Linked DNA regions of Homo sapiens. The protein of the gene in region 2 purifies or fractionates together with the protein of the main gene of each other region. This does not show direct contact. Each region holds a gene or a part of one and is shown on either strand. Other genes may lie near its edges. The genes, in order: PAK1, TAS2R41, SYAP1, THUMPD1, SEPHS1, MECR and CBFB.

Region 1 (4,628 bases), on a different chromosome or scaffold from region 2:
GTGGCACGCACCTGTGGTCCCAGCTACTTGGGAGGCTGAGGCAGGGGAATGGCGTGAACCCGGGAGGCAGAGCTTGCGGTGAGCCGACATCGCATCACTGCACTCCAGCCTGGGCGACAGAGCAAGACTCCATCTCAAAAAAAAAAAAAAGTCTTCAAATGACAGCTTGATGTCTCTGCTCCTAAATTTCCTCATCTGTAAAATGAGTTAGCCAACATCAGTCTAGCACATTACAGCTTCCAAATTGTTGTGCATATATCCACAGAGCTTACCTGATTCCCTACCACACCGCAAAAGTCTAAGACGGCTATGGTGTAATAGAAAAAGCATGATGAACTAAACAATCATAAGAACCTGGCTTCAGATCTTAGCTGTGCTGTATAGCCTCAGCAAGTCAATTAACCTCTTTGTGTTTTCTTCTATCAAATGAATATAAAACAACACCTGTCCTAGCTAACCCAGGGGATTGTCCAAAGAATAAAGTCAGATAATATCAGTAAAAGTATTTTGTACATTATACAAAAGGCCCTTCATCATCTGGGCCCTGCCTCCTCTCTGCTCTCACGCCTCCCCACTTTACACCCTATCTTCTAAGCATACTAAACTACACAGGGCTCCCCAAACAGGCTCTCAAATCTTCTGCTCACATATTGCTCTCTCTTTCAAGAGGGTCCATCATCTCCCCTTTCTTCTCACCCCTCCCTGACTGTGCTTCGTTAACCCCTGATCATTTTTCAGAACCCATCTTAGATGTCACCTCCTTTAAGAATGCTTGCCAGGCCACCCCCATTTCAAGTGCAGCAGATGCCCTTCCTCTGTGTTCACATGGCACTTGCACTTATCTCCATATTTTTGTCATTTTTTGTCTCAATGTAGTGTAATTGTCTATGCACATGTCTGTTTCTCCCGGAAACTATAAACCCAAGGGTAGAGGCTATGATTCATCTGTTTATTCAGAACCTATGACAATGCCTGATGCATAATATGTATTTAGCAAATGAATGAACTTTAAATGGCAATAAAATATTACTTTTCATATAATACTTACATAAGACATTTATGCAAAACATTGTTAATATAAGGCAGTGCTTCTCAACTTTGCATATCAGAATCACCTATAAACCTTTCAAAATAGAGATGCCAAGGCAACTCTTTACATCTTCACAAGTAATTCAAGTGCATAGCCGAAATTAAAACCACTGCTACACACAATCATAGTCATAAAATTACAAACTACTCTACCTAACATCTATATAGCTCAGTATCTTACAATTCACTTTTACATATATTATTAATCTTCACAAGAATTCTGTAAGTTAGGTATTATTTCTTTCAAATGAACAAATAGAGATTTAAATAAGTGTCCAAGTAGCTCTTTGTCTAACTTCAAATTTTGTGCTCTTCCTTAAACCCTCCCTTGGTAAGTGCAGTAATACACAAATCAAGGGTTCCACCAGTGAGGAAGACATCAATCTTAGCTTTGTGGGAATCCAGGAGGAAATAAGGAAAGCTGGACCTTAAAGATATAGGCAGGCAGATGAGGGTGGAAGCCATGCATATACTGTCATTGTCATTTGCCATCCCAAAAGATTCAAAAGGCAGATTCTATAAATTAGAAAATGCTCTTGCCAGCCTCAGTTAGTACTTAACAGTCTGAAAGGGAAAGGGATATTGGAGAAGGCTGGAAGTAGAAAAGTAATAAAAGAAAGCAGCCCATAAACAAGAATGGATTTCCCAATCCTGCATGCAAATTACCTAACTCTGACTCCAGGAACAAAAGCCAAGACATAATGGACTTAAGAATTAGATGAATTCTACAGTCAATCAATACCACGAAAACTCATGAGGGATGAATGAACCTCTGGTTCTTTCTAGACTTACTACTACACTATTCCTCAAGAAGGGATAATCCGGAGAAGCCTAGCATATACATGACTTTCCCCATCTCAAAAACTAAAAGAATGGGAGAGAAGAGGAAGATATTCATGAAAGAAAAGGCTTACAAAAAGGGTAGAAAAATGTAGCACATTAAGTTAATAAATTTACGATGGCACAGGGAAATATTCAGGCACAAGTGATTCCAAATACTGGATAAAGCCTGATCTGGCAGCTTCAGTAAAGAGGTATTATCTTCTAAGTCTGCAACATCATGACCATCTGACATAGAGTTTTATCAGCAATTATCCTTTCTAGTTCAAACTGTGGACTTCAGTCAGGGTTTTCTTAGGGAGAAGAAGCTAAAGAGATTAGGAACCAATTTAAAAGAATGTGTCTAGTGCCCCAAAATTTAGTTTGATAGAGTTTAAAAGGCAATATGTTATAGTGGCAAAGTAAAGTACTACACTTAGAATTTTAAAATGTGGTTTAAAATCAATATTCAGGCATTCATTAATGATGTGCCTCTGAGCAAGCCAAGACTTCTATTAATATGATCCTCAGCCTGCTAACTCGTAAAATGGGAATACCTATCTCATAGGGCTGTTACGAAGATTGAACAAAATAACATCCAGGAAAGATGTTATTTTTCCTGTATGAATGATAAATGTAAACGAATGTAAATCTGTCTTCACCAAGCCTTCTAATACACACACAAAAAAAACATACCAAATGGAAACTTTAACTCTCACTGCAATATATTTACTTGCAAAACATTCCTATATCCTCTGTGCAGAAACATTAAAAGCAGCCTCTGTACTGAAAATAGCACATAGCTGCTGGAGTCAGGTGCACATGGACTAGAATTGTTGGTCTGCCACTTACTTGCAGCAAAACCTTAAATAAGCTCCCTTTACTAGTATGACTCTCAGGTTTCCTCACCTATGATACAGAGATACCAGCAATCATCTCATAAGGTTATTCTGAGGGTTAAAAAGAACATGTTAAACATCTCATATAGGGCCTGGTACAGAACAGGTATTCAGTAACATAAGCCATTTTTAGTAAGCTTACCACCACCTAACAACTAACAAGCAAATTATACTTTTCAAAGATTCCTTTATAGTCATTATTTTAATTGCTTCATGATCCTGTAAACTAGTCGTAGCAACTATTACTATCCCCATTTTACAGTTGGGACAAAACACAGAGATAAAAATTACTTCTACAAGGTCATGCAGTAACATAGACACTAAAGAAGGTCTCCTAACTTTTCCAGGGTTTCATTTTCACCCACTACAAATTACAACATTACCCCTTAGAAATTAAAACATCTGTGAAGAGACTTTTTTTTTTTTTTTAATAATGGGCATAGAAAATGACCCAGAAGGAGCAAACACTGGTGTGGGAGAATGTTTTTAAATTTTTTATTTTCAAGTTTGAATATACTGACTATTAATTTTGAATCAATGCATTTTTCCTTTTATTTTTAGTTGATATGTAATAATTGTACATATTTATGATATTTTGAGATGTATATAATTCGTAATAATCAAATCAGGATAATTAGCATATTCATCACTCCAAACATTTATCATTTCTTTATCATAAACAGTCAAAAGCCTCGTTTTTAGATGCATATTGTTTATCGCTTTTCAAAAATAAACAATAAACTGTAGTGAGATGTATTCTTTTGATAACCTTAAACTTGTCTCTTTACTATGCCAAAAAGAAATATTTTTCTCCCACTTTCTGGTTATTATTTAGAAAAATAACATGGAGAGGGATCAGAAAATTCATTAAAACCAGCAACAACAGAATTAATGTCTCAAATTGGCAACTGCTGATTCCACCTTGATTTTTGTTTTAGTTTTCCCCAACAAAGCCCATGACCTCTTAAAATTTTTTAAAAGTCTGCCTGTCAAAATGATGCTTGTTTGACAAATTATTCCTAAACTGAGGGAAACAAATAGAAAGGCAGCTTTCTCCCCCCCTTTATGATCATATACCACCTTTTTTCATCCCTCTATTTCATCTCTTCATTTCAGCACTTATCATGTCATATTATCTCTAGCTCCTTAAAGACTTGGGCTGCACTCTTGTATATAGCTGAACATCCTGCCCAGCACAGGGTCTGGCACATGGTGGAGAAGGACTCATAATTTTATAGTAAACGGATGAATAATTGAAGCCACTCTCCCAGAAGGAAGCTAGGAAAGGAGAAAACTGGGCATGGTATCTTAGGGCTAATAAGAAAGTGAAAGAAACAAAGCATTTTAAGAGCTTGACAAGGAAGAGAAACCTTTGTGTGGAGTCAAACAGGCCCTATATAGCTTTAAGTATCACCAGAGAAAGACAAAAACCACAGGAGACCAGGAAGAGACAGTTTTAAGTTAAAAGACTCAAAAGTTAAGAGTGCTTATTTAGACTTGCAAAACCAACTTGCAAATTCAAAAGAAACAATCCTGGCTTGGAATATTGCAACAGCAGTTTTCAGGTGGTGGTTAAAACAAACAAACGAACAAAAGACTAGGCTAAAAATTCTTGCAGGCTTTGGTTGGAGACACATAAAGGGAAAAGCTCAACCTAAAATGAATCCCCCAAAAATGTTAGGATCCCCTTGGATTTGCACATTGGACCATGATTCCTATTCATTCTGAGAACGGTTCTTGAGTAAAACCCCAATGTCGCAGCTGGCAATACATAGAATTAAATCATCTTACATTATTCATTCAACAAATACTTGAGTGCCT
Region 2 (3,706 bases):
AATAAATACAAATAATAAAAATACAAGGAACTTATTCAACTGTAGTGCAGAAATAAACAAAAAACATAAATAACCTGATTTTAAAATGGGCAAAGGACCTGAATAACATCTCTCAAAAGAAGACAAAAATCGTTCATGAAAATATGTTTAATATCACAAATCACCTGAGAAATGCAAATCAAAACCACAATGAGGTATCATCTTACATGTGTTAGAATGGCTGTTACCAAAAAGATGAAGGATAACAAGTGTTGGCAAAAATACAGAGAAAAGCAGCTCTTTCAGTCTGTTGACAGGAATATAAATTATGGAAAACACTATAAAGATTTCTCAGAAAATTAAAAACAGACCTACCTTATCCAGTAATTCCACTTTTAGGTGTATATGCAAAGGAAATGAAACTAGTATTTTGAAGAGATATCTGCACTCCCATGTTCATTGAAAATTATTCACAATAGCCAAGACATGGAAACAATCTAAAAGCCCATTAACAGATGAATGAACAAAGAAAATGTGGTGTGCATACACAATGGAATATGATTCAGTCTTAGAAAAGGCGATTCTGCCATTTGCAACAACGTAGATGGAACTGGAGGACATTATGCTATGTGAAATGCTCCAGAGACAGAAATACATATATTGTACGATCTCACTTACATGTGGAATCTGAAAAAACAAACCCACAGAAGTAGAGAGTAGATTGGTGGTTGCCAGGGTTCTGGAAGGGGAAATGGGGAGATATTGGTCAAGGGGTATGAAGTTTCAGTTATGCTAAGTGAACATGCTTTGGAAACCTAAGGTATGGTAGTATGAGTATAGTAAACAATACTGCACTGTATACTTGAACTTTCATGAGAGGGTAGATCTTAAGTGTTCTCACTACACATGAAGAAATTGAAAACAGGAATTATGTGAGGTGATAGATATATTTTAAAAGAAAATATTTTTACTTTCAACATGGTCTCATAGGGACTTCTTTTTGATGTTGGTGTTAGACAGGACTCACATATGCCTCGGGTATCTCAGGGTGGCAGACAGACTGTAAAGTGGCCCTGCCTGTCCCTCAACCCTGGTGTTGGGCCTTTGTGTAACCTCCTTCTTTTGAGTGTTGTTGGTGACAGTGACTTGCTTCTAGCCAATAGACTATGGCAAAGGTGATAGGCTGTCACTCCAATGATTGTGTTATGTTATTTAAGACCCCATCTTGTTAGCAGACTCCCTTTAGAGACTGCTGACTTGACGTGAGTGGCCATGCTGAAACAGCTTACCTGGCAGAGACTGTGAGAGGCCTCTAGGACCAGAGAGCAGTCTCCCACCAACACCCAGGAAGAAACAGGGGCTCTCAGTCCTGCTTCGGAAGGCCCCTCAACCACATGATAATGAATTCTCTCACTGGAAATACAAAACCCGTTTACACCATTATCATTTACATCTCAGGATTCATGGAGGATCTAAGTAGAGATCTGGATGGAGAGGTAGACGAAGTGTTTGATTTTGAAGCGATTTGTGGGCAAAGGCAGTAAGGTAAGCATGGATGTGTAACAGGGAAGTACTGAGACAGAATTCTTTGATGTCACTATTTTTCCTGTGTATCTCCTATACTTGTCTCTATATTTAAAGTCTTAAGAATGTTCTGATGGGAAGAGGAGTGTTCATACGGCCTGAGGATGGAACTCAGTCACAGAGACCCAGAAAAATCATAGACATTGATACTAACCATGGCAGCATGCAGGAAAACTGGACAAGGCAAATTAGGGTAATTTGCAGGCCTAGTGGTAACTGACACTAGGATAAATTTGCATCCTGTCTGAGCCAAGAGCACACCTCTCCTCTTTAGCCTGAGCATCCTCCTCTCTAAGTGAGCTCTGGTTCAGATGCAGAGCCTGACCACTCTTTAGCACTCCTAGGAAAGATTAAAAACAGGACTGTGGCTAGGGGCAGGGAGGAGGCCAGGGACCAAGGCACTCAAGTGGGGACTGCAGGAGGGGTCAGAATGCAAGCAGCACTGACGGCCTTCTTCGTGTTGCTCTTTAGCCTGCTGAGTCTTCTGGGGATTGCAGCGAATGGCTTCATTGTGCTGGTGCTGGGCAGGGAGTGGCTGCGATATGGCAGGTTGCTGCCCTTGGATATGATCCTCATTAGCTTGGGTGCCTCCCGCTTCTGCCTGCAGTTGGTTGGGACGGTGCACAACTTCTACTACTCTGCCCAGAAGGTCGAGTACTCTGGGGGTCTCGGCCGACAGTTCTTCCATCTACACTGGCACTTCCTGAACTCAGCCACCTTCTGGTTTTGCAGCTGGCTCAGTGTCCTGTTCTGTGTGAAGATTGCTAACATCACACACTCCACCTTCCTGTGGCTGAAGTGGAGGTTCCCAGGGTGGGTGCCCTGGCTCCTGTTGGGCTCTGTCCTGATCTCCTTCATCATAACCCTGCTGTTTTTTTGGGTGAACTACCCTGTATATCAAGAATTTTTAATTAGAAAATTTTCTGGGAACATGACCTACAAGTGGAATACAAGGATAGAAACATACTATTTCCCATCCCTGAAACTGGTCATCTGGTCAATTCCTTTTTCTGTTTTTCTGGTCTCAATTATGCTGTTAATTAATTCTCTGAGGAGGCATACTCAGAGAATGCAGCACAACGGGCACAGCCTGCAGGACCCCAGCACCCAGGCTCACACCAGAGCTCTGAAGTCCCTCATCTCCTTCCTCATTCTTTATGCTCTGTCCTTTCTGTCCCTGATCATTGATGCCGCAAAATTTATCTCCATGCAGAACGACTTTTACTGGCCATGGCAAATTGCAGTCTACCTGTGCATATCTGTCCATCCCTTCATCCTCATCTTCAGCAACCTCAAGCTTCGAAGCGTGTTCTCGCAGCTCCTGTTGTTGGCAAGGGGCTTCTGGGTGGCCTAGATGGCATGGTTTCCTTATCTAGACCCCCGGAAAAGAAAGGTGAGGATGGCAGAGCTGTGGCCCACTGACATGGAGGTGTTTTCATAGGTAGATGAATACTGGGTACTGTTATGGGGCTCCTCCTCTGGGAAGCGGAGGAGACAAGGAAATCTGGGAACTCTCTGAGCATGCTTCCCTTCTTTGGAATGTTATAAAGATGCAGTCCCATGGATCCCAGAGAGCCAGTATTGCCCAGAAGTTCAGAATATGTTAATATGATGTCGTGCTACTCCTTACGTTTGTACCCCTTTGTTATCTGGAAGGCTTCGATTAAAAGTGTTGATTAACTGTGCCATCGCATCTCCACTGCCTTTCAGAAAGTTAAGAGCAAATATTTGCCTCTATGGCTGAACTGAGATGTGGATAGTGAAGCGACAGCCTTCTTGAGGACAAATGTCATGGTTACTACGAGAGCCCCAAGGGACAGGCAGTTGTGGCAGGCAGTGGCCTGGGCTGTGAGTTCTGATTGCCCTTTACTGCATGAAGATACTTTGTCTCCACACAAACTTGGATAATCTGGTTTTAATTTTATTAAGTTTACTGGAAGGTTTCTTTACACCACCCAGTTTCTTTTCTCATTAACATTTCTGACTTCAATTTTCTCTTCTCTGAAGTCTGAGTAGTAGCCAGACTTTTTTCTTGTTTATCATTCCTTTAGAAAAAGACACATTGTGACTTTCTTGTCTTCCTCAAGCATATGTCACAGAGTCACATCTGCATTGAATAAACATGTACTTTTCAATCTGAAAA
Region 3 (4,628 bases), on a different chromosome or scaffold from region 2:
CCTATTTATATGTGTTGCTGTTACATACTATTATGTTTCAGCAGGTGCTGCCTCTAAGCCTCTGAAACAGAGAGTGCTACCGGGAACAAGTTGACCTCTTCTACTTCAGTGCTGCATTCAGTGCCCCATAATGATGAGCCCCTCTAAGCAAAAAGTAGCCAGAAAGATTATGATGCCCCATCTCCCTACGATTCTCATGATAAATAAATATACAAGCATGATAGAAATCATGCGCAAATTGACAGTGGGGATTGCGGCAGGCCAGGACTCACTAACATAGGCTTCCATCACAACTGTTTCAGTACTGACTGAGTGGTTAAGTTAAATATTAAAAGCCAGTGACCTTATACAAAGGCTGGGATGTAACAAAAGCCCAAGAGTTTTGCCTAGGACTTTCCTGAACCTTAAAGCACGATTAAGTAAGTTTTACTGGGGGGTCTGAAGAGACTCCCCAGGCCTCCACAAACAAGTTGATTGGGGGTCTGAAGGAACTCCCCAAACCTCCATGATTTAGCAGGAGACAAGATAAGGGTAATCACCTCAGCACCTGGACCCAGTTAGATTAAGTAAATTTACTGAGGCTCCAGAGGAAGGTCTTCAGGACTCAGACCTTAGTTATAGATTAAAAGAAGTTAATCACTTATGTCTTTAGATGAGTGCACACTTAACACGTAGACGTATAGCTTAGAAGGTATATAAGCTCTGGAAAACTTTCTAATTTTGCGTTGGTCTGGTGATAATTTCCAGGCCTTCTCCCTGGAGCCACTTACAGAAATAAAAACTCTCTTCCTTCCCAGTTGACCTGCATCTTGTTATTGGGCCACGAGAAATAGCAGCCTGACCCTCAGTTTGGTCCAGGAACAAAACCATGCTTTGCAGTCAGAGAAACAAATCTAAAGTTCCAAAAGAAGAGGGTTCTTTTGGAAATAAATTCCTTTTATCCCTTCCTCAGAAACATATTTTGAATTCAAACAATGATTTTTATTCCAAGGGAGAACTGTCATTTAAAAACTGGTATTTTAGCATAATCATTGCATTCCTTAGATTTTAATGACTCCATGGATGGAGTTTACTGAACACACTGAATATCTGAGAAAGCACAAGTTCTTGCCCTCCAGGAACGTCCATCTCTAAAGCAAAACAAATAAATAGAGAATCAAAGACAAAAAGAGGAACAAGATTATTCATTAAGCAGATGTGGCAGCATGGAGGGAGAACTGTCTCCAGAGAGTTATTAGAGTGGCCTGGGAGTGAGATGGAGAGCATGACAAGAGATTTTCAGGGAAGAAGTCCATAAAGACAAGAAGTGATTTATTAATTTTGCAAAGAGATCAGCTGACACCACGTTGAAGACAGTTTTTATTTTGATTTTTATTTTTTATAGAGATGGAGTCTCACTATGTTGTCCAGGCTGGTCTCAAACTCCTGGGCTCAAGCAACCCACCCGCCTTGGCCTCCCAAAGTTTTGGGATGACAACTGTAAGCCACCGCACCTGGCCAAAGACAGTTTTTATGAACTGTCTAGGAAAAAACTGAAACTAAGATAGGAGTTAACAGGAAGTAACAGGAGTACAATGTCCACTTCAGTCCATAAAGTGAGGGTCTGAAACGAAGTAGCGCCAAAGAAAAGGAAGTCAAATTCAAATGTATCTGAATACGACTTAGCGACCTGCTGGAAGGTGGGGGCCGACAGCTAACATTTAAAGTAGTTATTTTACCTTCATTTTAATTATGCCATGTTTTATTCTCATAACCTTCCTGGGACAAGGAGAAGGAATAATCTGCCCAGTTCAAAAAAAGGGAAGCTGAGGCTCACAGAGGAAAAATGATTTGTCCTATGTGATAGGGGCAGATCTTGCTGGCTGCCCAGCCAGTAGCCCATCTCTTCTGCCTTGTTAAAACCACCCCAATTTTGATGCGTGCCCATGTGGCCAGCCCCAGAGAATGAATCTTGACAAGTCCACACCAAAGAAGGTAATGGCACTACCTCTGTCAGGATCTCTGCCACATACTTGCTGAGAGTCCCGTGAAGCTTAGAAAAGCCATGTGACAGCTCCACCCCAAGAAATTTAAGGGGACACCTGCAAGTCGGCATCCAGAAACATTTTCTTTCTTAATAAAAAGGGAGCTATGGGGAGAGTCCTCGTCCTCCCTTTCTACTGCAGTTGCTGTCTTGTGAGCCTGAAGTGATCAGCCTGAGGATGGAAACCAACTCACTATGGATGAAGGAGAGGAAGCGTGGAAGAGATTGGTTCCCTGATCATATCGTTGAGCCATGGAACTGACCCTGGGACCTCCCTCCCATCCCCACATTTCTTGGAGACTCTGCAGAAAAGCATTAACATGGCAGGCCTGAGACTGCTGTCCTTGGAAAGGCTTGCTTTCAAGGTTGGCCACTGGCTGGGTGTCCGGGAACTTAGATTTCGGGAGGGCTCCCACCATTTCTTAAACTGCTAAGAATGCCTCATTGTGGTTTATGCTGAACTCCCGCTTTCCTTGTGGGGTCTGGAATTTGGATATGTGGTAGGCAGAGGATACCTATACGACCAGTCCCCAGTAAAAGTCCTGGGCACTGAGTCTCTAATGAGCTTCCCTGGAAGACAGCATCTCACACGTGTTGTCACAACTCCTTGCTAGAGGAATTAAGCACGTCCTGTGTGACTCTACTGTGCCTGCTTACCCCTGGACTTCCACCCCATGTGCCTTTTTCCTTTCCTGATTTTATTCTTGTACTCTTTCATTGCAATACATCACGGCCATGAATACAACTATATGCTGAGTCCCATAAGTCTTCCTAGCCAATCATCAAACCTGGGGATGGTTCTTGGGGACTCCCTGACACAAAAATAAAGTTTCTTTCATTAAGCCTCTGATCACTGGACTTTCTGTAATTTGCAAATGATATAACAATAAAGACAGTAAGTAGTGTAGGGAACTCAAACACAGGCTATCTGCCTCTAAATCCCAAGCTCATGCTCCAATCCCACGCTGCCTCAGGTCAGTTGAGCAAGTTGACAAGGGCTTGAAGAACTGAAAGGAATGGTAAGAATAAAGTAAAGTAGGAAGAGCTTCAAAGGTCAGAAAAAACATAAATTTGTTAAAGTAAACACAGAGCAAGGTAGAGTTTAAGGCCTGCCGCAAGAATAGGAAGAGAATAAGCATACAGTGGCAAAGTCTTAGGAAATTAATATTCTTATAAAGTAGTTGGTTAATTTTTCAAAGATACTATATTTCATACAATTTTAGAATTTCAGCATCTTAGTGTGGGAATGGACCTTCCTATCCAGGTAGCCCCACTTCCAGGGGTAGGGAGCACAGGACTTAGAAGGGCAGCCAGTAATTACTGTTACTCAACTCTAATCAGAAAATTCTTCTCACTTCTCTAGTCATTTCTACCCCACAGCCTCAGGTCTATCCTCATAAGGAACATCTACGACTTCTTTTCTGCAAAAGACCTTTCAGATTTTCTGCAATGTCCCTAAGTTTCTTCTTCAAATCGAGATCCCCAATTTTAAAAAGTATTGTTCATAAGCCCTAGGATCCAAGCTATTGACTGTGCATTGTAAACCTGGGTGTGTTATCAGAACTCAATTAGATATTTTACTCCCACATCAAAGCAGGTACATAGTCACCTCTGTACACTCTAACTTTAGGAGTCCTCTTAGTTTGCAAGTTAGGCAGCTGGAACTTGAAATATACTTTCCCTACAGAAGAAAAGGAGGACAGTCTAACACAGGTCCACTGCAATACTAATAGCACTTTTCAAAGGAGGAGGAGGTGGCCCTTTCCCCATTCCTAGGCATGGAATAGTTTTAGGGGCGGTTTAGAAAAAGCTAAAGATCACAAAGCTCATCTTTGGCCATCCTCCCACTGATGTAAACTGTGTGACTGATTCAGATATTTAACATTCTCAGAAGTACAGATTTTCTTTTTATTTATTTATTTTTTTCAGAAAGAGTAGAGGCAAAGCTTTAATTTGGTTGACTTTAACAAAAACCAACTAACCAACTTAACGGCATGGGGCCTTGAGGGAGGTAGGGAGGAGCTCTTAAGTGAGTTCTCCTATAAATTGTTCCTTCCTTTGGAGACAGTGACAATCGGAGGTTGTAAATTTATCAGGAGGGAGGGCCAAGAATCAGGAGACCAGGAGGTTTGGTTTTGAGTGAGGGAGTGGAATGCAGGCCTGGGTGTCCACCACTAACTGGTGAGTTGCCTGAATGTATAAATAGGTCACCAGGAACCAGGAAGTATTTAGTGTCCAGTCTTGAAGGTAGGCACTCAACAAATATATGCAGAACAAATGGGGCTCCCAGGAGATTTTTTTTTTTTTTTTTGTGAGATGCAGTCTCACTTTGTCACCTACACTGGAGTGCAGTGGCGCGATCTCGGCTCACTGCAACCTCCGCCTCCCGGGTTCAAGCGATTCTCCCGCCTCAGCCTCTTGAGTAGCTGGGATTATAGGCGCGCACCACCACGCCCAGCTAATTTTTGTATTTTTAGTAGGGACAGGGTTTCACCACGTTGGTCAGGCTGGTCTCGATCTCCTGACCTCGTGATCTGCCTGCCTTGGCCTCCCAAAGCTGCTGGGATTATAGGCGTGAGCCACCGCACCCGGCTGATATTTTATG
Region 4 (3,956 bases), on a different chromosome or scaffold from region 2:
GTTAACAGTTTTTTTAGGGATCTTTCAGCCTTTATGGTATTACGTAGAGGCAGACCCATGTGCTGCTGTTGCAAAGAGGGGAGGATAGGAGGGGGATGTTGGCCTCTCCCAGGCTCCTCTTCTGCAGTGCCAGCTGACTTAAGGGAGTGAACTACCTGTGAAGTAGAAAATCAGAGGGAAGTTTTCATTCTAAGGAAGGAGTTTTTACATGCCACAGCTCAGCTGTCTGCCTGCCACTTTGTTGTAAACATTGCAAAAATGTGGATCATGTAGGTTAGAAGTGAATTGTTTAGTGAAGTTTTTGTACTTTTGTGATTTTCTTGTTTATGTCTGTTTTTTTTTTTTTTTTTTAACATTTGTGTGTAATATAGCTGACAGTCCAGTGTCGCAATTTTGGAAGGCAAGATGTGAGAGAGACGAGAACCATTTTAGGCATAGAACTACAGACATTTCTGAAAAGGTTGGTGATGAAGAACTTCAGTCTTCTGAGTATACTTCAGTATACTAGTGCAACAAGGGACACAAAGAAATTCTGTCTTAATAAAGAAAGCTACTTCTCAAGGGTATTATGTGGACTCAGTCCAAGCTCTCCTGTCCCATTGTGCATTGTCTGTGACATGCAACTTACAAAACTAGCAATTGTAACAATAAATCACAGCCACTTGACAAGAAAGGATATTCATTATTTTCAAATGGCTTTTGGACTATCAAAAACAGTAAGGCTTTTGTTCAGAAATCACCTTTAGTCAAAAGGTTTAAGAAGCAAATTATTTAGTAGCAGAACTTATCTCAGGAAAGGAAAATATGCATGGTTGGTGAGAATCTAATAACATTAAAATGCTGGGGCAAGATGCAGTACAAAGTTGAAGAGACTTTATTCTCAATAAGTTGATTTACTGATGATATGTCATATGATGCAAAAAAGGTTTTGTGTCATTAACTGAAAAGTAGCAGCTTCTCTATCCAGGATGATGAGTCAACAGGTTTCACTAATATTTGTCATGCTGTAGCATTTGTAAGATTTGTAAATGATGAAATTCAAAGAAAACTTTTTCTATTGCTAGGAGCCTGCCAGAACAAAGGCCAATATATAATGTTGTGACATCATATCTGATAACCAGAGGTCTGGTATCTACACTCCTGGTGCCCCATCAGTGGTTGTCTCCATAAGTCATTTTGCGTTATTAAAAAAAAAAAAAGAAATCCTGATGTTGACATTATAGCACACTGCTTTCTCCACAGAGATGCTGATATCAAAAACTTGAAGATACAGTGAAGTTCTGAATAATGTTACAAAACTGGTTACCTGTATCAAAGACCCATTTATGCAAAAATGTTAAAAAAAAAAAAAAACACCCAAAACAAAAACCTGGACAGACAGCACATAAACCTCCTGCACCATACAGACATCCAGTGGCTTCTCAGAGGAAGCGTTCTCTACAGGATATTTGAATTGAAAGGTGAATTGCCAGAGTACTTACAATAAAACAGCCAGCTTTTGCTGAGTGCTTTGGAAATGAAAAATGACTACAGAAAGTAGCCTATTTTGCAGACGTTTTTCATCACATGAACAAATGGACAAGTCTCTGAAAGGTTCTGGGGAAAAAAATTTTTCTTAAAGCGACAAGACTCTTAGATCTAAAAGGAAACTGACTTGCCACCTTGCCAGAGGAATTCTTGAAATGTTTCTGCAGCCACTTGGCCTTGAAAATAAAGGGTGCAACTCTCAAATCTTGTTCTAACCCGGCTGGAGGAACCACAAGACCCAATGAAATAGCATTTTCTCTCCTTTTCCCAGCACTAGTATATAACCTATGAGGAACCCTTGTCTCTGAATCTGCTCAGCTTGAAATTTTGTCTCTGAAGGAAGAGAATGAACTCAGCCCTAGTCTGACAGTCCTAGATTTCTGTGAAATAAGAGTATTCTTCAACTTAGTGCTCACACTCACATACCATGAGGGTTCTCTGCAGGGGTTTAGGGGTTTCCTGAATTTGAAAGTTTTTTCAAGGCCTCTTTTTGGGTAAAACAATTGAAAAGGCAGACACCAACAAAGTCTGCAAAATTAACTGTCCAGATTAAGAATATTAAGGAGCTGTAAAATTAGCTTGTAGAAATGGACTTATCCTTAAGTTTTAAAAAGTTAGGAAATCCTAAAAATGTTAGGCTTCCTGCACAAGTGGCTATGTTCATTTAATGGCTAGTGAACATGGGAATGTATTTTTATCCTCCTAGCTGGTGGTTCTGTTTGGTAAACCAGACTAGAATGATTTGAGAGGGGCAAAGAGAATAGGCAGGACCTTCCTTCTATAGCTTTACATATTTAGAATGTTAATACTTAATGACATTGAAGTTACCTTGCAATGATTGATAAGAGGATTATTAATATCAGTTAGGGGAATAGGGAGGATAGGATTTTGGTGCCTTCTTCAGCAGACTTGCTCCAAGACAAAGATTCTATTTTGATAGTGCAAGACAAAAGGACTCGGAAGAAAATTGGCCATATGCCTACAGAGCATACAACTCTGTGGAACTAAATTGTTTTTACTTTGTGAAAGCTGCTATTTTACGGAAAGATTTTGATTATACAGTTTGTTTTTAAATTGTCTTTTATATTTATTTGTATTTGGTAAGAATCGGTTGTTACACAAGCTGTTCTTTCCCAGTTACAAAATCCTGTGTTCGGTTGTAACCTGAACTCATTAAAAGACTTGTTTTCAGGTTTATCAACTGTTTATTTTCACTGACATTTGAGCATGTTATTTTATAAATGACGGGATTCCAGGGTAGGAAGTGCTTTTTATTCCCCTTTTGTTTTTTCTTTTAAAAAATTACGTCAGTTAAAAAAATAAAAAAACTGCAGTCTTATGGTTTAGAAAACTTGTTTAGCTCCATAGAGGAAAGAATGTTAAACTTTGTATTTTAAAACATGATTCTCTGAGGTTAAACTTGGTTTTCAAATGTTATTTTTACTTGTATTTTGCTTTTGGTACGGCCAGAAATCGAGCTTGTTTTTTCATAGTTCCTGATATTTTCAGAAAAATCAAAATAAATTTGTTCCCTAAAAATTGGTGTTCTAATATTTTTTCTTTCTTTCTGACTCTTAGTAAATCTCTTGCTTTATAGTATATATATATCATAAAATATGTTTATATGTCAAATTATAAAATGCCATGGACATGAGCCTAAAAAACATTAAAAAATTATTACCCTTGAATAATTAATACTTCTAAATCCAAGTTTCAGATATTTTACAGTTAATTTGCTTCAAAATGAGCCATAGTAATACAGTACTTACTTTCATTAAATTCACTTACTGATTTTTGAATTATTTATACTCATTTTAACAGTATTTTAATATATTGAAGTTTGGTCTCATAAAGTTGTTAAGTAGAAGAAATTGTCTTGAACATTTAGGATATATCTTTATTTTGAATTAATCAGGCACAAGATAGATGAAATACAGATTCATTGTGCACTTTCTTTTTCTAAGTAATCATTTGACTCCTGCAATTTTAAACACTAGAAACCATCATTACCTTTGTCAGTTTGGTTATTGAAACAATTTTCATCCATATATTTTTAGACTTTTATTTACTTTTTAATTTTTTAGCTAAGTAGAAAACAAAAACTTAAACCAGGAAGGATCTTAAACATTTTAAGAGAGTAGTCACTGAATTATCAGGAACAAATCGAGAAAGCAATCATATTACTACTTAACCCTTCAGCTTTTTTATCAAGCTATGTTCGTCCCTATTCTTGGTCTCTTAAAACGTGTTTGATTCTCCCAATGATTGTCTTTGGGAGTTCTTGAACAAATTCCACCTAATTGACGGAAAAACGTTATGAGACATTTGATTCCGTTTTTCCAATTGTCAGTGCAATAGGAGAGAGCTTGCATGAAACTCTGAGACTGAATTTTAAAGTCTAGATTATCTTAGCCTAAGCTTATTGAATC
Region 5 (4,628 bases), on a different chromosome or scaffold from region 2:
CCTTTGAGGCACGGTGGGCTTTCCTTGGTTCAAACCACAGATTACATTTACCCGATCGTAGACGACCCTTACATGATGGTAAGCGTGAGCCGATGTGTTTTTGTGACTGGAAGGGCTTATTTGTTTGGTTTGGGTTGTGGCTGGGGTTTTGTATGTATCTGTGGGGTTTTGGTTTTATTTCTGTTATATCCCGACTATACTGCCCCACCCTGCCCAGACTCCTGCAGTTGCTGAAGTCAGGCCTGTCCCCTGCCCACACTTGGCACTGGGCATAAAGCAATTAGGGAGGAAGCAGGGAAGGCCCTCTGCTGCTGTTGCAACTGAGTACATGCTGTGAGTAAGAACACCTCTTGTTTAGTAGCATGTCAATGGCCTGTTTTTGTCATTTTCTTCTTTCTTGCACCTTCTCTTCTTTGACATTGGTAACCTCCATCACCCCTGTGTTTTAGGCTGGAGATGTTACTGTCCTCTGTAATAGGACTGATCCTAAATGTTTCCTTCAAGAGATTAAGGAGCTAGTATCTCATCACAATTAGATGCCTCAAACATTAATTCGGATATCTGGTTAATTCACTCAACCCAGCCACTTGCACACCCACCACCGTGTGATGTGCCGCTGTACATAGTAGGTTTCTGACCACTGAGTTAAAGTTCCTGGCTACTGATGATACACTGCTGAGGTGTGTTCCCCAGTTGTTTACTGCGTAGTTGCAGCCAGCCACCCTTTGATCCACCCAACCTTTAACCCCAATTTGCTACCACCCAGGAGGAGCCAGTGGAGAGACTAGGAAAATCTGGTTTGCTATAAAATGCCAGGTGTTCTTCGTGTGTGGCAAGGACAGTGGGATCAGGCTGCACTGTAGGGACTTTATCATGAGGCAGCCACGTGGGGGGTGTTCACCCTCAGGTACCAGTGACAAATACCAGATTATTGGAAACCTATATTTCTTCCGCACATCTGTCCGTTTTCTCCTCTGGAGCAATACTCTTGAGACTGGGCAGGTAAGCCACAGCCCAGGTCCCACATGACCAGGTGGCAGGGATGGCTAAAACCACAGTCCATTGTTTTCCAGCATCTCCTAAAATGAGAGCACCCAGAACAGAAGGGGCGCTAAATCACCACCCCCCTAACTAGCGATTGGCTTGTGCGAGTTGTAGACCACCTGTTGGCCTTGTGGACTGGCTTGATGATACTGAAAGTGTGGCCACAGATGGTTGTTGAGCTGCATTGCTGACCTCCAGGAATGTATAAGAAAGCCTAAAGCAAGCAATTAAACAGCCACTGGAAGTGATAACACTTGGGAGTTTGATTATCCTTATGTCAGAAGGAAAATTTGTATTTTCTCTTTATTGTCTATAAAAGATAAAAATTTAGATAAGGGCAACTTAACTTTTAAAAATCTCCAGTGGCAATAAAAAAATCTTCATTACCACATTTCTGTTGAATTGTATTTTAAAGTTCCTAATAAAATGACATCATTTACTGGGAAATGCTTCTTTTTCTTTTGAAAACAATATGACTTCAGCCCTGGGTATTTTTTTATTTGTTTCTTAAGATGATTTTTCTGTTTATCTCATACATCCTTGAAAAGAAGCTACAAAAATTTTTTTTGTTTTTTTTTTGTTGTTGTTTATTGACAGTCTTGCTCTGTTGCCCAGGCTAGAGTGCAGTGGCACGATCTCAGCTTACTGCAACCTCCACCTCCCAGGTTCAAGCAATTCTCATGCCTCAGGCTCCCAAGTAGCTGAGACTACAGGTGTGCACCACCATGCCCAGCTAATTTTTATATTTTTAGTAGAAACAGCATTTTACCATGTTGGCCAGGCTGGTCTTTAACTCCTGGCCTCAAGTGATCCACCTGATTCGGCCTCTCAAATTGCTGGGATTACAGGCGTGAGCTATCACACCCAGCCTAAGCTGCAAACATTTCTTAATCCAAGTGCACAAAGACTATCTCCATCTCTATAACCACTAAAGCCAGCCATTTTTAGAATCTGTTTGGGATATGTGGCTGTTTCCAACTTTTCTTTAGGAGAGTTGTTTGCAGGCTTTTTCGCTCCATAGCTCTTCCCCCAAGACTGTCGGTTCTAAACTTGCTTCTCCTCCTCATTCGCTGCACATATACCCCTTCCCCTATCTAAATAAATTGCAGACTTCTAAAATTTAGAATGGAGAAAAACTGGTACATTCTTTGTCCTGCACAAGAAAGAGGTGGTAACAGGAATGTCTGAGAAAAAACGAATGGCCTAGTGACTCTGTGATGCAGGAAAGGTTGCCAGTCTGCAAATCATAGAAACTGAGGACCCCATCCTAGTAGCTGCTACTCCTGGAAAGTCTCCACGTTCTCTGTGGAGTCCACTCCATGGCTCACTCAGTTTCTGCAGATGGAAAGTCCCCGGTCGTCCTTTCTCATGTTTCCCTCTCTTCCCAGGGCAGGATAGCGTGTGCCAATGTCCTCAGTGACCTCTATGCAATGGGGGTCACGGAATGTGACAATATGCTGATGCTCCTTGGAGTCAGTAATAAAATGACCGACAGGGTAAGTAGGAGCTACCCGGCTGCTGCCTGGTCCGTGTTGTCCCGGTGGCATCTCTGGCCTTGGTTAGACTTGGTTTCCCATCTAGAAAGCGAGGAGCCCAGGCCATATGGCTCCCTGCACTCCTTCTGGCTCTCCACTTTTTGGCAGTTACCAGTAAATTAAAATGAGGAAGCCTGGCCTAGTCATCTCTGCACTTCTGCCACCTGCTCCCTTTCTCTCTTCCCAGTAGACTGAAACCAAGACTTTTTTTTTTTTTTTTTTTGAGACAGGAGTCTCACTCTGTCGCCCAGGCTGGAGTGTAGTGGCGCAATCTCAGTCCACTGCAACCTCCGCCTCCCGGGTTCAAACAATTCTCCTGCCTCAGCCTCCCAAGTAGCTGGGATTACAGGCACGTACCACCACACCTGGCTATTTTGTGTATTTTTATTAGAGACGGGGTTTTATCACGTTGGCCAGGCTGTTCCTGAACTCCTGACCTCAGGTAATCCACCTATCTCGGCATCCCAAAGTGCTGGGATTGCAGGCGTGAAACACCGTGCCCGGCCCAAGGCATTTGTGTATATTTTTTTTTGTTTTATTGAGACAGAGTCTCACTCTGTCACCCAGGCTAGAGTGTAGTGGCACAAGCTCAGCTCACTGCAACCTCCACCTCCCAGGTTCAAGCGATTCTCCTGCCTCAGCCTCCCAAGTAGCTGGGATTACAGGGGCACACCAGCACCCCCAGCTAATTTTTATATTTTCAGTAGAGATGGGGTTTCACCATGTTGGTCAGGCTGGTCTCGAACTCCTGAGCTCGTGATCCACCCACTTCGGCCTCCCAAAGTGCTGGGATTATAGGCATGAGCCACCGTGCCCGACCTGTGCATTTTTTAAAATAAAGTTTTGGCCATAGTAATGGTGCCTCAGTGTGAATCAGGCACAGCCTTACAGATGTGGGACACGTGGCACTTAGAGGGCACTCCCTCTGCTGTGGCTGGGGATGTCGTGGACGTAGATGGTGACGGGGGATAGGGCCACCAGGGGCTCACGCCTCTGTGTCATCGCCTAGCATTCTGTGCCCTTGCTGCCTGAACCTGTTCTTTGAACCAGAGATGAATTCCTATTTAGATAGACAGGTACTTGTTTTTGTCCCAAGAGCCCCCAACAGTTTGCCCTGCCTTAGAGAAACTTGAGTTTCCAGTAGGCTCTTTCCTGCCCTTGAACATGGGCTGTAGTCATCAGTGGTGCATGGTGGTCTTGGCGCAGGCTCTGTCAGTGTGGGTTACTCGTAGCCTGCAGCCAAGCCTTGGTAGGATGGATGCCTACTGCAGGGCAGGGGACCTGTGCTTAGGAAGCCAGTCTTGAGATTCTCAAGGAGCACTGGACAGCTGGCTTCCAGCAGTCATCAGACCTAGGGCTGGTCCTGTGCACTGAGTCCAGACAATGTTGGTGTCTGGGCTTTATTTACATTGTTGTCTAGAACATCTTCCAGCATTGGATAAAATGATGACAATGTGAAATATTTTCTAGCTTTTGTTTTTGTTTGTTTTTGAGACAAGATCTCCCTGTGTTGCCCAGGTTGGAGTGCAGTGGTGTGATGAGAGCTCACTGCAGCAGCCTCAGCCTCCCGGGCTCAAGACATCCTCCCACTTCAGCCTCCGGAATAGCTGGGACCACAGGCACATGCCACCACACCAAGCAATATTTTTTTTTTTTGTTTTTGAGATGAAGTCTCACTCTTGTGCCCAGGGCTGGAGTGCAGTGATGCGATCTTGGCTAACTACAACCTCTGCCTCCCAGGTTCAAGCGATTCTCCTGCCTCAGCCTCCCAAGTAGCTGGGATTACAGGCGCATGCTACCACACCCGGCTAATTTTTGTATTTTTAGTAGAGACGGGGTTTCACCATGTTGGCCAGGCTGGTCTCAAACTCCTGACCTCAGGTGATCTGCCCGCCTCAGCCTCCCAAAGTGCTGGGAATACAGGCATGAGCCACTGTGCCCGGTCACCCAGCAATTTTTACATGTTTCGTAGAGAAAGGGGTCTGTCTGCATTGCCCAGACTGGTCTTAAACTCCTGGGCTCAAGCTCTCTGCCCACCTCGGACTCCCA
Region 6 (5,256 bases), on a different chromosome or scaffold from region 2:
CCGAGGCAGGGAACAGCATTTCAGGCAGAAGGAGTGGCCTGAATAAAGGCACAAGACACACTGGGGAAGACGGGTATCAGATGCAGCTGGATCACAGGCTATGCACGGTCCAACAGGAGAAGATGAAGCTGGAAATGCAGTGTGGGAGTCAGAGTGCAAAGAATCTTGAATGCAAGTCCAGGAAATTGGACTTGAACCCCTCAGTCAGTAGTTCTCAAACTATGCCCCTGCAAGAACCCAGATGGCCTAGACTAAAAGTGAGGGCTATTGGGATGCACAGGAGGCTAAAGTCCAGCCCCAAGGAGGAGGACTTGCTGGATGATTCTTCAGGCTTCCTGACTGGGCTCCCCAGAAATTCAGAGGAGCCAATTTGGTGAAGAAGAGAATGTCGACATCTCAATGTCACCTAGGGAGTCTTACAACAGAAGGTTACGTTGTACTTCCCAGTTCAAGTAAGCCTATGTGTCACTGGGGAAAAGGGTAAGCAGGACTGGTCATCGTGTGTGTGCTGGCACATAAATGTGGGGCCAAGCCTTTCCCCCACCATGGGACACCAACTTTCTCTAATAATAAAAACAAGTACAGACATTTAGTGAGCACATACTATAAGCCAGACCCTAGTCTGAGGGTTTTATGTGTGATATTTCTCATTTAATCACAATAACCCCCGATAATATTTATCAAATGCTTCCATGTGCCAAGCATTGTACTAAATGCTTCAAGTGGATAATATCTCACTTGACCCTCACAACAATCTTGAAACAGATAACTAGTATTCCTTCCATTTTAAGAGTAAGAAAGTGAAGACACAGAGAGGCCTGGTGACTTGTCCGAAATCAAATGGCTGGAAAATGGCAGAGCTAGGACATAAAGCCAGGTTTGTCCAAATCTAGCTCACAGTACTTTGCTGTGCTCTCTTCCTCAGAGGAAAGGCTTGGAGATGGCAAGCTTCAAGTCAATAAAATCCAGGAAAGGAACTCTTCCTTATCCTTCAAAGCCCTGGCTCAGTATCTTAAAACCTGTTTCCTGGGACACCTGCATCAGAATATTCTTGGGAGCTTGTAAGGATGTAGATTCCTGGAACCCCCATCCGCAAGATTCTAATTCAGTAGGTCTAAGATGGGACCTCGGATTATTTTTATGCACACAGAAGATTTTGAATCACAGGGCTGGCTCTAACAGCACCTCCTCCAAGAGCCCCCACCCCATCCCACCCCATCCCAGAGCACTTCTCTTCAGACTACAGCATTGCACTCTGGCACGAGCCACAGCTCGATCTGGGGTTTTAGTAATGTTCATGTCTTCCCTACACCAAAAATCAGACTAGATCCTTCATAGGGCTACACCTTTTTACAGGCATTTCCAGTGTTCCACTTAATCCCTTTCTACACTGTGAGCATTTTGAGAGAGGACCCTTCTCCTTGTGATTCCTGTCTTACATCTGAACAGAGTTTTTTACAATGCGTTCTCCCACCCACAATAGCATTCCTCTATTATTTCATCCAATCCTCACAACAATCCGGAAGGAGGCATATTATCCCCATTGTACCGATGAGAAAAATTCAGAGTTTCACCTGCCCAAGGTGGCCAAGCTAGGAAGTGGCAGGGCTAGGATTTGAACCTAAGTTTTCTAACTCCAAGCCCCATACTCCTGCCTCCACAGCAGCTTTCGTGTACTCTCCTCAGTGTAGGGAAGTAAGCTTTGCCTCCCTATGCCGTTACATGGTAGTGGTGATTAAATGAGATAATACCTTAAAGAGCCTGGCTCGGTGAGCACTCAATATATTATGTGAAGGGTAAACTGAGGCCAGGGAGAGTAAATATTTCCTCCAAATCAAACACCAAACTGCAGGCTGTAGACACGACTTTGGACTAGCCCCAGACTCTCCTTGTTGAGACAACAGCTTTGGCGGCCTCGCAAGCTCCGCACCCCCGGATCCCTCCGGGGCCCACACGCAGTCTAGCCAGGCGCCACCACTTGGGCAGCGAAGGAAGGAAACGCCCTTCAAAGGGACCAAGGGGGAGTGGTCACCCGGCGGGGCAGGGGCGGGGCGCAGGCGCGCGGTCGCTGGAAGATGACGTAGCCGGGGCGTCAGGCTCTGTGTTGGTTGGAGCGAGCATGTGGGTCTGCAGTACCCTGTGGCGGGTGCGAACCCCCGCCCGGCAGTGGCGGGGGCTGCTCCCAGCTTCTGGCTGTCACGGACCTGCCGCCTCCTCCTACTCCGCATCCGCCGAGCCTGCCCGGGTCCGGGCGCTTGTCTATGGGCACCACGGGGATCCAGCCAAGGTCGTCGAGTAAGAGACGGCGCCGAAGCCGGGGAAGGGGACTGGGGTTTCTGGAAGGCTTTAACACGAGCTGCGGACTGGGAAGAGAGGGACAGGGTCCGAGGAAGGGGGCAGAGAATAGCAAACCGAAGCCGAAGCCCAGGGCGTTTTTGGTAGGTCAGAAAGACCGTACTTGAAGGTAGCTGAAGACCCGAGAGGCAATTATCAGGGTATTAATGGCTGATGTTTATTGATCGAATATTGTGTCAGGCAATCCCTTGTTTAAATGGATGCTCTCATTTAATTGTCACAACAATGTTTTGGGGTAGTTATTGATTTATCCCCATTTTGCAGATGAAAACTGAGGCAGAAGAGGTAAAATCACTCGTCCAAGGTCACACAGCCAGTAAGTGACAGGGTCAGAATTCCAACCTATGTCTGACTGACCTGCGTGAGTTCTTACTATTATTATTATTATTTGGAAGAAGTTTTCAGAATACTTTTACATCCATTTGGATCTTCATGTGTCAGTAAAGAGTAGGTCATAGATCATTGTTTCCAGAGGGCAAGGGACTTGCCCAGAGTGATACCGCTAATAAGTGATTGGAACAGGAGACTGGAATCCATGGCTTCTGATTCCAAACTCATGTTTCTCTCCACTGCACCGTATATGCATCTTGGCTTGGTTAAAAAGAGCTGCTTTGGTGCCATACAGACCCAAGTATCTATATTTGGTCAAATACAGGCTCAACGTCTTAGTAGCTGTTTGGTCTTAGAGAAGTCATTCAACTTCTCGTTACTTTTATGACTTTGTCCTCCTCCTAAAATTCTGTTGGATCTTAATTCATGCTTTTTGCACGTGGTTGATAAAAATAGTATGTCAGTTGCCAACCATTGTAAATCTGCACATAAATAGCCATTCAGAAGGGCTATTGGGGCCACTGAAGTGGAGCTAAAGCAAAAGCACAGGTCTGGGAATCAAAATACTTGGGGTCAAATCCTTGTCCTAGCTTTGCATTTGGCAAGTTACTGAGGTTCTCTGAGCCTCGGTTTCATCATCTTAAAAAATGGAGACAGTACAGACAAAGTTCATAGTGGTAATCACCTAAGATCTATGTAGTGCTCTCCACCAAAAAACACCTGCATACTCTTGTGCAGTACCTTCTTTTTAACTCTTTGATTCCCAGCAAATAGTTTGATTATTTTCCAAAGGATGGGCAAATGTGGTATTACTTTAATGGTTAAAATTCAGGCTAGAGCTGGGCACGGTGGCTCACGCCTGTAATCCCAGCATTAGGGAGACTGAGGCGGGTGGATCACCTGAGGTCACGAGTTCTAGACCAGCCTGGCCAACGTGGCGAAACCCCATCTCTACTAAAAATACAAAAAAATTAGCCGGGCTTGGTGGTGGGCACCTGTAATCCCTGCTACTCAGGAGGCTGAGGCAGGAGAACCGCTTGAACCCAGGAGGCGGAGGTTGCAGTGAGTCGAGATTGCGCCACTGCACTCCAGCCTGGGCAACAGAGCGAGACTCTGTCTCAAAAAAAAAAAAAAATCAAGCTAGATGTTTTGACAGGTGGTGAGGATAAGCCTCAGATAAATTCAAGGTCATCCAATCAGCCTAGCCACATCCCGCATTATAGAAACGAAAAGAATGTCAAGAAGACACATCAGTCAGTAAACTCCAAATTGTATGTTGATCGTAGGTAATAAAGCATTGTGTCAGGGAAGACATCTCACTAAGGACTGCGTTGTAAGGAACTGGTACAGCTCTGATGAACACTCCTCCATTTCCAGGAATGTACCCCAAATGAGAACCATGTAGTGTCTCTCCCACGGACTTGTAGTTTGTGTCTGCAGCAGGACCTGCCACAAAACAGGTGCTCCTAAAATGTTAGTTCAATCTAAATCTAAATTTCCAAAAAAAGTGAACCTTTTATTAAGTTCTGCTGTGGTGATGAGGAAGGCCTGGGAAAGTTCAGCTGAATGCAGTTGCCTCCTAATTGATTCCCTCCTCTTGGAGAGCCAGAGAAGCTGGAACAGACCGGTCTGTTTGCAGATGCCACTTAGGAAAAAAAAAAGCTTCTATTATGTCCTTCTGTGGAACTTCAGTAATTTCCCTCTAGTTCAAAACATGATACTTCCAACCGGGCGCGATGGCTCATGCCTGTAATCCCTGCACTTTGGGAGGCTAACATGGGCAGATCATGGCGAAACCCTGTCTCTACTAAAAATACAAAAATTAGCTGGGCATGGGGGTGCAAGCCTGTAGTTCCAGCTACTCGGGAGGCTGAGGCAGGAGAATTGCCTGAACTGGGAGGCAGAGGTTGCAGTGAGCCGAGATCGCGCCATTGAACTTTAGCCTGGGTAACAGAGCAAGACTTCCTCTCAAAAAAAAAAAAAAAAAGATACTTCCACAAAGCATTATATTCAACTTTGGCTTCACAGCACAGTCACCATTTGTAGTGCTTTTATTTTTTGTATTTGCCCACATAAAATATCAGACAGCTTTTATTTTATATATATATTTATTTATTTATTTATTTATTTTGAGATGAGATCATGCCATGTTGCCCAGGCTGGTCTTGAACTCCTGGGCTCAAGGGATCCTCCCACCTCAGCCTCCTGAGTAGCAGGGATTGCAGGTGTGTACCACCACACCCAGCTTGACCTGTAGTGCTTTTAGAAACTACCGTATGTATTCCTAGGCCCCACTCCTGAGGTACTTAGTAGGTCTAGGATGGCTTGGAGCTTCTGTTTTTTTCAAAGCTCTCCAGGTGACTCTGCTGCCCAGGCCAGGCTTGAGAACCACTGCCTTGTGGATACAGATTGTCAGACAAGCAGTAATTCTCTCCGTGCTCCAGAAGGGCAACTTTACTTTCTGACCCAGATTCAGGCGGCTTTACTTGTTCTCGTATGGACTGAAGCCAGAGACTGGGATTCTCTTTGTAGTCATGTCTTACAAGGTTTAGGGTAACCACACTGTCACAG
Region 7 (4,628 bases), on a different chromosome or scaffold from region 2:
CCTCCCAAGTAGCTGGGATTACAGGCGTCTGCCACCATGCCCAGCTAATTTTTTGTATTTTTAGTAGAGACAGGGTTTCACCATGTTGGCCAGGCTGGTCTTGTACTCCTGACCTCAGATGGTCTACCTGCCTTGCCTCCCAAAGGGCTGGGATTACGAGTGTGAACCACTGCTCCTGGCCTGAAAGATTTTTTAAAATGATGTTGTAATATTGATGTTAGTTCAGTTTCTATGGATATAAAACATTTACCACATGAAAATGGTACCCCAGTTGATTAGGGAAATGCCATCAGAGAGGTTTAGAGATTTAGCATTTAGGTTGACAAGTGTACCGACAGTGCCAGTAATAGAAATAGGAAGTATAATTTTTACCTCTAAAGAATCTAAGCTGTTAACCATCAGGGGAACTATTGGATAGCTAACTTGGTTGATGGCTTTAAACAAATTGCCCCAAATGTGAACCTCTTGATTTGAGATGAAGACTCTATGCATGGAAACCAATTATGCTTCAGAACTTAATTAGTAGAATAAACCAAACAAAAAACTTTTTCTGGTTTCAGCAAAGAAGAGTTTACATTTAGATGATGAAAAATGTATTTTTTCAAAAATGCTTTTACTTCTTTTTTTCTTAATTTCCTTTGGGAAAGGGGTAATGTCTTTGTTTTTTGCCTGAGGGAAATATAGAGGTAACTTGCTCAAGGCCTACATAAAATGACACTTTATTGAAGTGGTTTTAGATTGTTGCATCTGTTGAGCTCTAACATCCAAATCTTTTATATTTATAAATCTAATCTATAAATATTTATTAGATGAATACTTTTCTCTTTGTTGTAGTCAGACCAAGTTCTCCTAAAGTCAAATGTGAGAAAAGACATATTTTTAAAAATCATCTAGGGTTTTAGAGAGTACTGTCACATCCCATGCCAATGTATGGTTTATCAGAGGAGAGACAATTCCAAGTGCATTTTTTATGTACTGCCTGCTATGCAGTGTTTCAGCAAGGGAAATCAAGGAAAATTAAAGTGTCTCATTTATACAATTTTAAATTGTGGTATTCTTTAAAATTCAAAATCTTTAGATTTTGAGTGATTTTTACATTTAAAAATAGAAGTTTTTAAATGCAGAGATGGATAGTGGCTTCTGGTTAGACATTAGCAGTGTGAGATCCTAACGTCAGCAAAAAATGACCTGAAAGAAAGTATTGATTCCATGTCTGATTTTATACTTAAGCAGCCAATGGCAAATGTCCTCAAAATGGAATCAGATGTTTGTAACTTAATACTTAAGAAAAATGATGAGTGCATGTTTTTTTTTACTTTTAAGTATTCTCTGTGCTGCCTGGCTTAAGACATAAACTGATGTAAAAATAAATGACTGCTTGCATAATTTATGTAATGTCCTGCTCCTGATCCTGTTTGTATTGATTTTTCTAAAAGGCTTTTGTGGCCACAGGAACCAATCTGTCTCTCCAGTTTTTTCCGGCCAGCTGGCAGGGAGAACAGCGACAAACACCTAGCCGAGAGTATGTCGACTTAGAAAGAGAAGCAGGCAAGGTAGGAAACATTTCTTTGCAATTTAAAATACTGTGGGTTGTTTTGTTAGAGATTATCTGGTAATTTACATTTTAATAAAGATCACAGATCTGATTATACCAGCATATGCTCAGATTTGTTTTCATTCCATGTTATAAGGATGTAATATAATTTTTTTTTTTTAATGGCGTTTCGCTCTTGTTGCCCAGGCTGGAGTGCAGTGGCGTGATGTTGGTTCACTGCAATCTCCGCCTTCCAGTTTCAAGCGATTCTCCTGCCTCAGCCTCCTGAGTAGCTGGGATTACAGGTACCCGCCACCACATCTGACTAATTTTTGTATTTTTAGTGGAGATGGGGTTTCACCATGTTGGCCAGGCTGGTCTCGAACTCCTGACCTTGTGATCCGCCCACCTCTGCCTCCCAAAGTGTTGGGATTACAGGCGTGAGCCACTGTGCCCGGCCAATATAATTTTTTAAAACCACTGTTAAACTTTTGTATCACTCCATTCCTAATTTCATGTACATAATATTTGTCATAGAACATTCTAACCCTTAAGGAAAGTAACATAACAATTTCTTTAAAAGTTTGAGGAGATATATTTTGTTTACAAAAATATATGTAAGTATAGTGCTATAAAAATAAAACAAGAGGAAAACGGAAAAAAGCTCTCTAGGTTTAAAAATTAATAGTATTTAGAAATAGCTCATAGGTAACTTTCTAATTCCATTAACAGCAAATTTACATTTGAGAAAAACAATGTGAAAACTTTAACTTGGAAATACTTTTTTTTTGTTTTGAGAAAAAGTTTCTGGGAACATGTCTTACAGTTTCGATGTTAGAAGTTTAGGTTAAAGATACAAAAATATAGGTAAAATGTTTAAGCTGAGAGCCTTATTTCAGGTCTACGTTAAATGTATTATGATTTTGGTAATTTTTTTTTTTTTTTTTTTGAGATGGAGTCTCCCTCTGTTGCCCAGGCTGGAGTGCAGTGGTGTGATCTTGGCTCACAGCAACCTCCACCTCCTGGGTTTTAAGCTATTCTCCTGCCTCAGCCTCCTGAGTAGCTGGGATTACAGGTGTGCGCCACCACGCCTGGCTAATTTTTTTGTATTTTTAGTAGAGACAGGGTTTCCCCATATTGGTCAGGCTGGTCTTGAACTCCTGACCATGTGATCCACCTGCCTCTGCCTCCCAAAGTGGTGGGATTATAGGAGTGAGCTACTGCACCTGGCCTGGTAAATTTTAATGAATAGCATCTTGGATTGGTTGATTCTTGATTGAGAAGTCAAGGAGTTGACTTCTAGAATAAAATTTTTAAAGAAGAAACCCTCTTTTAAATATAGTTTTATACTCAAAACACCCTTTTGGATCCAGTTTCATACTTTTTTTGTGTGTGTTTGTTTTGCAGTGTGTTTTTGTACCCGTTTCTATCAACTTACTAAATTAATTTTCTAAGTGTCATCATGAATAGCATAACCTGCCACATTTATGTAAAATGTGAGAAATGTCTAAATATTCCTTTGAGAAATATTTAATTTAATCTTGTGTGTATATATATATATACACGTATATATGTGTATATATACGTATATGTGTGTGTATATATGTATATATGTGTGTGTATATACGTATATGTGTGTATGTATATACATATATATGTATATATAAAATGAATTTTTTGTTTTCTCCAATTCTGTAGAATTAGATTTGATCTTTTGTGCGTGACAAAACAATCTTTGGATTAGAAAAGGGAAAACAGATTATAAGATTTAAAAAAATGAGTACTAAGCAAGCAGTTTGCTTTCCTGTGTATTAGCTTGTTTGCTTGGAAAATTAAAAGTGAATGTTCCAGATTTTACTATTTGGTAATTCTTACACAATATATAAGGAAGAATTTGAGAAGTCCTTGTACGATTATTGGTTTTTTTGTGCTTCTGGTGCGTGTATGTGTGACTAAATGAAGAAATTATTTTTTTTCTTGTTTGAATACTTCCTTAAAGTTTGTTTAACATGGTAGCTCAGATACTAAAGACGTAAACCAAAAAAAAAAAAAATTTGTTTTTTGTCAGCTTTAGCCCAAAACTATTTTAAGACTTCAAGGGCAACATCTCAGTGTTACTGAAGTCTTCCGGTATTTAATAACTAGTAAATGGGTTGTTAACTCTACCAGAAATTAAGTTTGCTTGAATTAATTTAATGATACTGCTTCACTAGTGTGAAGACCACATAATCCTTGGACTTAAACCATTGAGATGTTTTTAGTTATATGACCAAAAATAACAAAAATGTGAGATGGTTTATTCTAGTACAGTCATGTGTCACTTAATGGTAGGGATATGTTCTGGGAAATGTGTTGCTGGGTGATTTTTATCATTGTGTATATATAGAGTGTACTTACACAGATCTAGATGGTATAGCCTACTACACACTTAGGCTATCTGGTATAGTCTGTTGCTCCTAGGCTACAAACCTGTACTGTACAGCATGTTACCGTACTGAATACTGTAGTCAACTGTAACACAATTTGGTAAGTATTTGTGTATCTTGATGTATCTAAACATAGAAAAGATATGGTAAAAATACAGTATTTAAAAAATGGTATACCTGTATAGGGCACTTACTTTGAATGGAGCTTGCAGGACTGGAAGTTGCTCTGGGTCAGTCAGTTGAGTAAGTGGTGAATGAATGTGATTCTGTAGATTATATAAACATAGTATGCTTAGGCCGCACTAAATCTATAAAAATTAAGCAATTGCACTGCAATGTTAAAATGGCTATGATGTCACTAGGCAATAGGAATTTTTCAGATTCATTATAATCTTACAAGACCACTGTCATATATGTGATCCATTTTAGGCTGTAACGTTGTTAAAGCAATACATGAATGTATTAAAAAGATATGTTTTTAATTCTATTAGGAAGAGTGATAGAACTATGCAGGCTATCAGGAAATGTACATTTTATTAATACTGGTTTTAGAAGTTTTTTTTTCTGTGAAGGGACAAATGTAAATGTTTTCAGTTTTGCAGGCTTTCAGTCTCTGTCACAACTACTCATCTCTGTAACTCTGCTGTTGTGGTGTGAAAGGGACCCTA

Evidence for each region.
Region 1: the proteins of TAS2R41 (region 2) and PAK1 purify together in Homo sapiens (affinity purification with mass spectrometry; 2 studies listed by BioGRID and IntAct, with this or other methods). This does not show direct contact.
Region 3: the proteins of TAS2R41 (region 2) and SYAP1 purify together in Homo sapiens (affinity purification with mass spectrometry; 2 studies listed by BioGRID and IntAct, with this or other methods). This does not show direct contact.
Region 4: the proteins of TAS2R41 (region 2) and THUMPD1 purify together in Homo sapiens (affinity purification with mass spectrometry; 2 studies listed by BioGRID and IntAct, with this or other methods). This does not show direct contact.
Region 5: the proteins of TAS2R41 (region 2) and SEPHS1 purify together in Homo sapiens (affinity purification with mass spectrometry, with the first as the bait; one large-scale study listed by BioGRID). This does not show direct contact.
Region 6: the proteins of TAS2R41 (region 2) and MECR purify together in Homo sapiens (affinity purification with mass spectrometry; one large-scale study listed by BioGRID and IntAct). This does not show direct contact.
Region 7: the proteins of TAS2R41 (region 2) and CBFB purify together in Homo sapiens (affinity purification with mass spectrometry; 2 studies listed by BioGRID and IntAct, with this or other methods). This does not show direct contact.

What each region holds. Positions count from the first base shown.
Region 1 is NC_000011.10:77,466,467-77,471,094, forward strand, and holds part of PAK1 (serine/threonine-protein kinase PAK 1), read right to left. Parts: intron 1-4,628. UniProt on the Homo sapiens protein: Protein kinase involved in intracellular signaling pathways downstream of integrins and receptor-type kinases that plays an important role in cytoskeleton dynamics, in cell adhesion, migration, proliferation, apoptosis, mitosis, and in vesicle-mediated transport processes.
Region 2 is NC_000007.14:143,475,880-143,479,585, forward strand, and holds TAS2R41 (taste receptor type 2 member 41), read left to right. Parts: upstream 1-1,993; coding exon 1,994-2,917; downstream 2,918-3,706.
Region 3 is NC_000023.11:16,722,236-16,726,863, reverse strand, and holds part of SYAP1 (synapse-associated protein 1), read right to left. Parts: intron 1-4,628.
Region 4 is NC_000016.10:20,732,774-20,736,729, reverse strand, and holds the end of THUMPD1 (THUMP domain-containing protein 1), read left to right. Parts: 3' UTR 1-3,066; downstream 3,067-3,956. UniProt on the Homo sapiens protein: Functions as a tRNA-binding adapter to mediate NAT10-dependent tRNA acetylation modifying cytidine to N4-acetylcytidine (ac4C).
Region 5 is NC_000010.11:13,334,155-13,338,782, reverse strand, and holds part of SEPHS1 (selenide, water dikinase 1), read left to right. Parts: coding exon 1-78; intron 79-2,432; coding exon 2,433-2,540; intron 2,541-4,628. UniProt on the Homo sapiens protein: Synthesizes selenophosphate from selenide and ATP.
Region 6 is NC_000001.11:29,227,770-29,233,025, reverse strand, and holds the start of MECR (enoyl-[acyl-carrier-protein] reductase, mitochondrial), read left to right. Parts: upstream 1-2,091; 5' UTR 2,092-2,119; coding exon 2,120-2,295; intron 2,296-5,256. UniProt on the Homo sapiens protein: Catalyzes the NADPH-dependent reduction of trans-2-enoyl thioesters in mitochondrial fatty acid synthesis (fatty acid synthesis type II).
Region 7 is NC_000016.10:67,035,203-67,039,830, forward strand, and holds part of CBFB (core-binding factor subunit beta), read left to right. Parts: intron 1-1,436; coding exon 1,437-1,553; intron 1,554-4,628. UniProt on the Homo sapiens protein: Forms the heterodimeric complex core-binding factor (CBF) with RUNX family proteins (RUNX1, RUNX2, and RUNX3).